Homo sapiens: one gene and its partner. The protein of the gene in region 1 interacts with the protein of each later gene in a pairwise test. Each region holds a gene or a part of one and is shown in the gene's direction. Other genes may lie near its edges.

The links.
Region 2: the proteins of RNF14 (region 1) and UBE2W interact in a two-hybrid assay, tested with the Homo sapiens proteins (one large-scale study listed by BioGRID and IntAct).

What each region holds. Positions count from the first base shown.
Region 1 is NC_000005.10:141,981,261-141,986,409, forward strand, and holds part of RNF14 (E3 ubiquitin-protein ligase RNF14), read left to right. Parts: intron 1-2,119; coding exon 2,120-2,292; intron 2,293-3,542; coding exon 3,543-3,673; intron 3,674-5,149. UniProt on the Homo sapiens protein: E3 ubiquitin-protein ligase that plays a key role in the RNF14-RNF25 translation quality control pathway, a pathway that takes place when a ribosome has stalled during translation, and which promotes ubiquitination and degradation of translation factors on stalled ribosomes.
Region 2 is NC_000008.11:73,871,468-73,876,616, reverse strand, and holds part of UBE2W (ubiquitin-conjugating enzyme E2 W), read left to right. Parts: intron 1-5,149. UniProt on the Homo sapiens protein: Accepts ubiquitin from the E1 complex and catalyzes its covalent attachment to other proteins.

The sequences.
Region 1 (5,149 bases):
TTTCACATAATTTTATGTCAAATCTAATAAAAATTTAGACTTTTTTTCATTTTTCTAATAATTGATTGTTAGCTGACTGTGGTGGTGCACACCTGTAGTTCTAGCTATTCAGAAGGCTACAGCAGGAGGATCTTTTGAGCCTCAGTTGAGACTAGCTTGGGCAACGTAGTGAGACTCTGCTTCTAAAAAAATTAAATCAAGCAAACCTGGTTATATCTTATAAAAGTGTTGATCTTTGACGTATCAGAGAAAAAATAAACTGGGCCTTTACCATAAATAGTTTGAGAAACAGTGGGCTAATACATGTAAAATGCAGAATGGGGCTGGGCATAGTGGCTCACCTCTGTAATCTCAGCACTTTGGGAGGCCAAGGTGGGCGGATTGCTTGAGTCCAAGAGTTTGACACTATGGCAAAACCCCGTGTCTACAAAAAAATACAAAAATTAACGAGGTGTGGTGGTGCACATCTGTAGTCTCAGCCACTCAGGTTGCTGAGGCGGGAGGATCGCTTGAAACTGGGAGGTAGAGGCTGCAGTGAGCCAGATTGCACCACTGCACTCCAGCCTGGGGGACAGAGTGGGACCCTGTCTCAAAAAAAAAAAAAGAGGAAAAAGAAAAATAGTAATTATTAATGCTATTATTATTGTAGTTATTACTTGCTAATGTTAGCAGACTGTCATTATTTCCAAGAAAGTACCATGAGAGGAAAGAGTGGGTAGATAATTTCAGTTGCCTCAGGCAGCACCTTGCAGAAGGTAAGGCCAGATGGAATGGAGAACTTAGCAATGTATAATATAAGCCTTTACTTTAGACTTCTGTAACCTTTTCATTAAAAGTCAACAGTACATTTCAAGTGTTTCACAGCATTCAGGGAAGAAATTGAAGATAGATTCAGGGCTTTAGCAAAATTAGGAATCTCTCCCTCTCTTTGTATGTATATATTATATAAAATATGAAATACAATTTTATTATTTTGGGAAGACTAAAGCAATATAACCTTTGTCCTTAAGATGCCTAGGAACACAAAAATGCATTGAATTATTAGAGGGATGAGATTTACATTGCTTCACTGCTACATTGAAGTAGAGGTGATGAAGCTGTGGGAATGTACTACACAGAGAAAGAATTCACAGGTGAAAGCAAAGAGTGGAGATAGGATATAGGATTCTATACCAGAAGATGTCTTTTGCTTTAAAAGGGAGATAGACTTCCAAATAATGTGAGGAAAGTAAACTGATAAAATAACTAGAACATTGTTGAGAAAACTCTTTAATTAATTGTATTGAAAAATTAAGGTAATACAACTGTGAACAAAAGCCTTTTGTCTGCAAGTAAAACCTTTGGGATTGGTTACCTGTTCCATTTCAGTTAAATGATAGAGCAGTAGAAGCCAGATTGAAGAGTATCGAGGGAAAACTTTTCAGCACCTGTAGCAAAGCATAGTACGGGGTGAGACTTGGGTGCTAAGTTTTATTCACTGATTTTTTTTTTTTACACAGAATTGAAGAGGTAGTCTTTGCCCTTAAGCCAAAAGTGCCTTTGTATTTGGTAGGCCTCTTCATTATCAAACAGTGAATGGTGCTGACTTAGTGGAAAAATCAATGTCTGTTTCAACCTTTGTGTCTTCTAGATAAGTCAGTCTTTAACTGCATACTTCTAGATGCATAAACATACCAACATTAAGAAATCAAAATCAAAGGAAAAAAATAGCCTATCTTATTCTACCACTTTTAGCAGATACATCTTTTCTAGTTGGGGGATTCCTTTCCATTTATTATCATTTGTGCAAGTATAATTTTTACTGGGTTATAACATAAATATACTTTTTTTCTGGATTCTGTGATGAGTGTTTTAATTGGGTTGTAGCGAACCTAATTATGTTTTTAATAATTGAATATTATGTCATTAAATGGCTCTTCCAAACATAATTATTTCCTTAGAAATTTAATTTTTTTGCCATTGTTATATGCATCTCCATGCATATGACTTTGGATTATTTCCTTATGATAAAGTTCTAGGAATAACATTATTGAATAGTCGAAGATTATAGCCATTTTTAATGATTTTTGGTCAGCATTACAAAGTTATATAAAAGTTAATTTTCCATTTCACTTTGTAGAGAAATTAATGGACTTACGAAATGAATACCTGCAAGCGGATGAGGCTAATAAAAGACTTTTGGATCAAAGGTATGGTAAGAGAGTGATTCAGAAGGCACTGGAAGAGATGGAAAGTAAGGAGTGGCTAGAGAAGAACTCAAAGAGCTGCCCATGTTGTGGAACTCCCATAGAGGTAAATGTTTTGGGACAGACTTGGAGGCCATCAGACTTGCAAGGATGTTATGATTACCTTAAGAAGCCTTACTAGTCAATTTTATGACTTACAAAACACATGCTGGTATTATTACACCTTCTTACGTGGAAGGTGGAAATTTCACTATTAGATCTTGTTATCGACCTTAAATGTTTGTAGACTTCCCTTTTCAAAGTATTTGCTTACAGTGACCATTGTTCTCACATTGTATCCACCTCAAAATTGAATGGGTTGTAAGGAGGGCATACTAGAGCTATGGTCAACTCTTACCTCATCTATGTGATTAAAAAAAATCAAATCTGATCTCTCAGAACTATTTATCCTGGAATGCTGCACACCTGTTTAAGATACACTCAGGAATTAATTTGAGTCAAAATAATTAGACAGATATATTGCTTCTTGACAAAAATCTTAATATGTTTTAAAATCAAAATACATCTTAGCATTTGATTCTATTGTTCTAATCTGTTATGTCTGAACTGAACATAGTGGGCTCCAGTTAAGGAAACTAGGACTATATGTAATCACTTTTTTTTTTTTTTTTTTGATACTGAGTCTCTCTTGCCCAGGCTGGAGTGCGGTAGTGCAATCTCAGCTAACTGCAATCCCCGCCTCCCAGGTTCAAGGAATTTTCATGCCTCAGCCTCCCGAGTAGCTGGGATTACAGGCGCCAGCCACCACACCTGGCTAATTTTTGTATTTTTAGTAGAGACAGGGTTTCACCATGTTGGCCAGGCTGGTCTCGAACTCCTGACCTCAAATGACTCGCCCACCTTGGCTTCCCAAAGTGCTGGGATTACAGGCATGAGCCACCACACCTGGCCATATAATCACTTTTGACATACCTTAGCCCTATGACAGAGTGGAGGACTTGGTACCAAATATTTACTTAGATTTCTGTAAAAATTAAAAACCCACACGTTACATCCAAACATTTTAATATTAATCTAACTACATTTTCCAGTTATACTTGTGTGATTTTTATCTACTGCTTGTCAGAAGAGATTGTGCCAAGTAACTAATTGTAGTAACACTAGCTATTTTCTGTATTTTACTTCTAATGCAAAATAGAAAGAATTACATAGTCATCAGTGTGTTACATTGATATCTCAACCCTGCATAAGAAAAGGGAGAGGACCAAGACAATGTTGTACTGAATCATTTTGGCATGTGCTGTCTCTTCTGCTTTTACAGCCTTGATATTTTTCTCTTTCTATCCTTCCCACCAGAAATTAGACGGATGTAACAAGATGACATGTACTGGCTGTATGCAATATTTCTGTTGGATTTGCATGGGTTCTCTCTCTAGAGCAAACCCTTACAAACATTTCAATGACCCTGGTTCACCATGTTTTAACCGGTATGTATACACAGAATTCCTCAGGCTCACCAGCAATTTTTGGTACTTGATTTGCAGACCACAAATCCAGTGTTTTATTTAAGTACTTGGACTTATTTAGAGAATTCTCTTACATGTTTTCCCCTATAAAGGAATTTTCATATTATTTTCTCAAAAATGAGTTTTATAATGAGACTTATACACCATCTGGAAGTTTTTATAGTGAAAGTTTTCAAACACAGAAAATTTGAAAGGATAGGACTATGAATAGTAGGATACTTTCCACCCAAATTAACAGTTGATAGTACTTTGCCATATTTGTTCCCTTAACATTTTTACTGAACTACATGAAGTTGGAGTTATGATAATGCTTCAACTCTAAATATTTCCACGTTTCTCCTAAGATAAGGAAATGCTTCTACATAATGACAGTACTTTTAAAAAACTTAATGATAGTGGCATACTATTATCTAGTAAACAAACATATTTGAAACTTCCTAATTATTTCTGAAAATATCTTTTAAAGCTATTTGATTGAACCAGAATCTGAACAAGTTCAGTCATTGTATTTGGTTCTATCTCTTTAGTCTCTTAATACAGAAAAGCTTTGGCCCACCTTTTTTTTGTGTGTGTTTTGTGAACATTCACTTTTTTTTTTGTTGAGTCAGAGTCTCGCTCTGTCGCCCAGGCTGGAGTGCAGTGGTGCCGTCTCGGCTCACTGCAAGCTCCGCCTCCCGGGTTCATGCCATTCTGCCTCAGCCTCCTGAGTAGCTGGGACTACAGGCGCCTGCCACCACGCCCGGCTAATTTTTTTGTATTTTTAGTAGAGACGGGGTTTCACCGTGTTAGCCAGGATGGTCTCGATCTCCTGACCTCGTGAGCTGCCCGCCTCGGCCTCCCAAAGTGCTGGGATTACAGGCGTGAGCCACCACACCCAGCAAAACATTCACTTTTTGAAGAGTCCAGGTCAGTTATCTTATATAACGTCTTACCTTCTAGACTTTTATTTGTCCATGGTGTCCTTTAGCTTGTTTCTCTTATTTGCTATAAACTGGAAGTTAGGTCTAGACTGAAGCTTGATTCGATTTAGAATAACATTTTTTATGCTGATACTTCATGAGGAGTGATGTGTATTCCGTATTGGATCACATCAAGAGGTCCATGATGTCCCTCATTAGTGTGGTGCTCATTTCTACAGTTTGCTTTATTGTAAAGGCAAGTTTTCCATTTTGTTATTAGGAAGTAATCTGTGGGGTGATTCCTTGGCACAATGTGAATATCCTGTTCTCCAAGAGCTCTCCACTTTCAGCATCAGTTGATGATCTTTGTTAAGAGGTGTCTGTTAAGTAAACACATTGGTATTGTGAAACTGTAAGAGAAATTGAAGAAACAAGCCCTGCCATGAACTATTGGAAATCTAGTGTTGGAAATTGCATAAGTTGTAGATAACATAAGGAAAGGAAGACAAATTGACAGCTACAAAACATTCTACAAATG
Region 2 (5,149 bases), on another chromosome or scaffold:
AGTATTACTATCTCAGACTCTTACCACCCTTTTAAGTTTTTCCTTCACCTTGTTCCATCGAAATCTTATCACTCTCTATTCTTCTGTGTTTTCTGGTTAGAGGAATGGAAAACGGATGCTTCCTATATTTATTGAAAAGTCTTTCCCTTTTTATTTGTATTTTAAAATATCTAGTGCAGATTTGCTGGTAGTATCTTTAAGAATATTTTAATATATATGTCAAGCTTTTTGAAAGACAACCCTACTTTCTGTGTGGTTATTCTGTATCTTTGTTATACAGAATTTATATCCTGACTATCTTAATGGCAACATTTGGCTCTTTTAAGACAACTAGATTATACATAAATCTTCAATAAAATTATCAACTTTGTTTATTCACTGAGCCAGTTATCTTTTGGGGGACCTCTATGTGTCAGACACTTATCTAGTTGCTGTGGTTATAGCAATGAACAAAAGCAGACAAGATTTCTGCCCTCATGGATTTAATAATAAATAGTCTCATAAGAAGAGACAGATAAGAACAGCATATTTAAGTTAATTGTGTTTTGTTCTTGTTTTTTGTGTTGAGATGGAGTCTCGCTGTGTTGCTCAGGCTGGAGTGCAGTGATGCCATCTTGGCTCACTGCAACCTCCGCTCCCAGGGTTCTAGCAATTCTCCTACTCAGTCTCCTGAGTAGCTGGGATTACAGGCGCTGGCCACCACGCCCAGGTAATTTTTTTTGTGTTTTTAGTGGAGACTGGGTTTTGCCATGTTGGCCAGGCTGGTCTTGAACTCCTGACCTCAGGCGATCCACTCGCCTCGGCCTCCCAAAGTACTAGGATTACAGGTGTGAGCCACTGCACGCGGCCAAGTGTGTTATTATATTAGAAGGTGATAGTGCAGTGGAGAAAAAGCATGGAAGAAGACTAGGAAATTGATCATTTGGGGATTTCGATTAGGAAAAAATAAGCTGTAACATGGAATGACCATGTCCTTAACCCAAAAAGCTTTTAGTAGATTTATCTAACCCACACCAGGATGTTGCTGCTGCTGCTGAAGTTACTTAAGCTCTAAGAGGAACTGTATTTTTTTTAAAATGCCATATTATACAAATGTAACATGGGATTTCATTACTTGGTAATGAGTAAAACAAGTAAGGGTAGACTTTGAATTTCTTATTGGAGAGTATGTATTTTAAAGTTGAGCTAGTAACTGCTTTAATGTATTCTGTCAGTGCGTCTCAACCATCTTTTAGGTTCTGCCCACATAGAAAGTAAGTTTTGAATAGTACACTAAAGTAGATGAGATTGGGAGGCTAGAAGCACCTGGCAGGCAGCACCTCATGAAACTCCCGGGATGGGAGATCAATATTCTGGCACACCTGTAAATGCTGGGGACGCTCTACTCCCTAATATTGCTAGAGTTCTGCCATATACAATTCAAGATAGTGGTTTTCAGACTTATGTGATCCCTTTGAGACATTCTTTACTCATTTTCTTTTTTTCTTTTCCTTCCTATTGTTTCTTCCTAGAAAAAAGTAATGTATCACCAAGTAAGATTACAGTTAAATTATGTTTTAAGAAACCTTTTCTTTTTTGGAGACAGGGTCTCACTGTGTCACCCAGGCTGGAGTGCAGTGGCGCTGTCTCGGCTTGCTGCAGTTTCAACCTCCCTGGGCTCAAGTGATCTTTTCCATCTCAGCCTCCTGAGTAGCTGTGACTACAGGTTTTTGTATTTTGTAGAGACAGGTTTCACTATGTTGCCCAGGCTGGTCTGGAACTCCTGGGCTCAAGCAGTCACCTGCCTTGGCCTCCCCAAATCCTGGCATTACAGGCGTGAGCCTATGTGCCCAGTCTTAAGAAACCATCATTAAGAGAATGTTATATTTGTGGTGATACCTAAAATTGATAGGAGTTAAACAGATCTACATTTAATTTTGGTAATTCTAAAAATCTTTAAATATTACATGAAAAGTTTCTTGTAGCAAATTTTTAGTTTTAGCGTTTTAGGGACTGATTATTTGGTAGAAACTTTTATCCCCAAACTGCAGAAGCATTCTTTTATTGAAGTGAATTTTTATGTGATTCTAAACATTTTTGAAAGTGTAGCAGTATTGAGGTATTCTTTTCTCAGGTGAATCCTAAAATTGAATTTTTTGTTGTTGTTGTTAAATGCTTTTTTAAAATTTTATTTTATTTTATTTTTTTGAGACAGAGTCTCGCTGTCGCCCAGGCTGGAGTGCAGTGGTGCGATCTCGGCTCACTGCAGGCTCCAATCCCCGGGCTTCATGCCGTTCTCCTGCCTCAGTCTCCCGCGTAGCTGGGACTACAGGCGCCTGCCACCTCGCCCGGCTTATTTTTTGTATTTTTAGTAGAGACGGGGTTTCACTGTGTTAGCCAGGATGGTCTCCATCTCCTGACCTCGTGATCCGCCCGCCTCGGCCTCCCAAAGTGCTGGGATTACAGGCGTCAGCCACCGCGCCCGGCCGTGTTTTTAAATTTTATAACCTTTTTTCTTTCCTATGTATTATTTAATGTTATGAAGTACTTGACCTCCTGGATATAATTTCTGATTTTAGAATTTAACTGCTTCATTCAGACTTCTCGTAAGTTAGCAATTTTAACATATATGCTGTCTAATTTTCTAATTTGACATTCTAGAATTGTTAATTTTAGATAAAACCTCCTGTTACGTTGTGTCTTAAGATCTTAGAAAGTCAGTGCATAGTAGTTGATGTTTGTCAACTCTAAAAACAGTGATATAATTGAGAGAAATGGTCAGTTGAATTACCCTTGTGAAATTTCTGCATTTACTTCCTCTCTTACCTAGCTGGGTCTTAGACTGTTAACTGTCAATTTGTAGGGATGGAAGGAGGTTGAGATTTAATAACAGGAGATAAAGTATGAATGTGTGCTTATTTTCAGACTTAGAAATAATGCATTATTTTGGATTATTCACAGCTTTTAAAATTTTTTCTCTCTGAGACAGGGTCTCACTCTGTCACCCAGGCTAGAGTGCAGTGACGTGGTCTTGGCTCACTGCACCCTTGTCCTCCCAGGCTCGGGTGATCCTCCCACTTCAGACTCCCAAGCAGCTGGGACTATAGACACGCCACCATGCCTGGCTAATTTTTTTATTTTTTGTAGAGATGGGTTTTTTCCCTGTTGCTCAAGTTGGCCTTGAACTCCAGGACTCAGCCATCGGCCCACCTTGGCCTCCTAAAGTGCTGGGATTATTACAGGATGAGCCATTGCCCCCAGCCCACTGCTCTTTGCTCAAGTAATTGGCTATAGTGATTGAGAGAGATGGAACATGGACTCTTACAGACATTACTGTTGTAGTAGTCATGTTGCCTTGACAGTTAGATACGACGTCTGTTTGTTGATGTCAGTATGGAAGGGTTACAACATAATTAAAAGTTAGAAAATAGGCCAGCATGGTGGCTCAAGCCTGTAATCCCAGCACTTTGGGAGGCTGAGGTGAGTGGATCACCTGAGGTCAGGAGATCGAGACCAGCCCGGCCAACATGGTGAAACCTAGTCTCTACTAAAAATACAAAAAAAATTAGCCAGGCGTGGTAGAGCGCATCTGTAATCCCAGTTATTTGAGAGGCTGAGGCAGGAGAATCCCTTGGGCCCAGGAGGCGGAGGCGCCTTGCAGTGAGCGGAGATCATGCCACTGGACTCCAGCCTGGGCGACAGAGTGAGACTCCAGCTAAAACAAAAAAAAAAAAAAGGAAAAAAAAAAAGGATTATCTTTGAACAGTAAAAATTTACAATTATAATTTTACTCAGTACACAAGTATACACATGAGAACTTCTTTTTAAAATATGATACATAAAGTAACCTTGTGTTATAAACTCAGGAATATTTCTTCTTTTCTTTAGCTATAAAAACTATAAAGTAGTTTAGTAAATGCTTAATTCTTGACTGAAAAGTTACATAATTACACCAATGATTTCTCTGTGATGCCAAACTGTGTTCATTACTTACACCTTCACAGCATCAACAGATTTCAGAGCTTAGTTTCACTACTCAGTTACTGTGTAATTTTGAGTAAGTCACTTTCCAAATAAGTACATACTTACCAGCAGTTACTGCTATGTCTCTATTAGAATGAAATTAGGTTAGTTGACTTCCTTTTTTATAAAGAATATGAAGATACTATGAAGAACATTACAGTTATGGCAAACGCATGCAGCAAGAAAATAAGCCACTTTTTTGGTATATTATATAAATATGAATTTTAAATTATTCCTTTATAGGTACTGAACCTTACTATTGTAGAACTGCTTAATAGACTGACCTAAAATAGAATTAAACTAATGCAGAATTAGCTATTTAGGAATGCTTTTTGAAGTGTTAAGTAATGGACAAATATTTACGGTAGTCACTGTGTGCACATTTAAGGGATAGAGGGAAAGTATTTTTTCCTGCCTTAATGAAGCAGGAAATCTAAAGCAGAAAGTAATATCAGATTATCCTTCAAGGCTGGCCACCGCGCCTGGCCTTCAAAGATAATCTTCATTATCAAGGAGAGTTTTTAAGGTGGGATGATCCCAGCGTGGGACAAAAATTAGCTGGGTGTGGTAGCACATTCCTGTGGTCCCAGCTACTTGGGGGGCTGAGGTGGGAGGATCACCTGAGCTCAGGGAGTTCGAGGCTACAGTGAGCCAGGATTGTGCCACTCTACTCCAGCATGGGTGACAGAGTGAGACCCTGTCTCAAAAAATTTATATAAAAATAAAAAATAAAGTGCCGCTGCACTCCAGCGTGGGTGACAGAGTGAGACCCTGTCTCAAAAAGTATATATAAAAATAAAAAATAAAGGGATGATCTGGCATCTCTCTGAAAATATAGTTCTCCTTAGTATTTACCTAAATTAAGCATTTGTTAGATGAATTTTATTCCATCTTTATATTATTGCTGTCTGCTTCATTATGAGTAGTATCTGCAAAATACTTGTTCATGTTTGTCAGGTATTAAAGTGTCCTCATTTGAAAGCCTTTATTTGTGAATGTAGTTCTTGGATCACCAAAAAACAGCGCATGCTTTTGAGTTGTTTTATTCTAAGAAAATACTCTACTTTCATTTAGCTGCTTTTGTAAAACTTCATTAGAGATAAAGAACACAGGCTCTGTAATGAAAAGACCCAAATTCAGGTCCTGT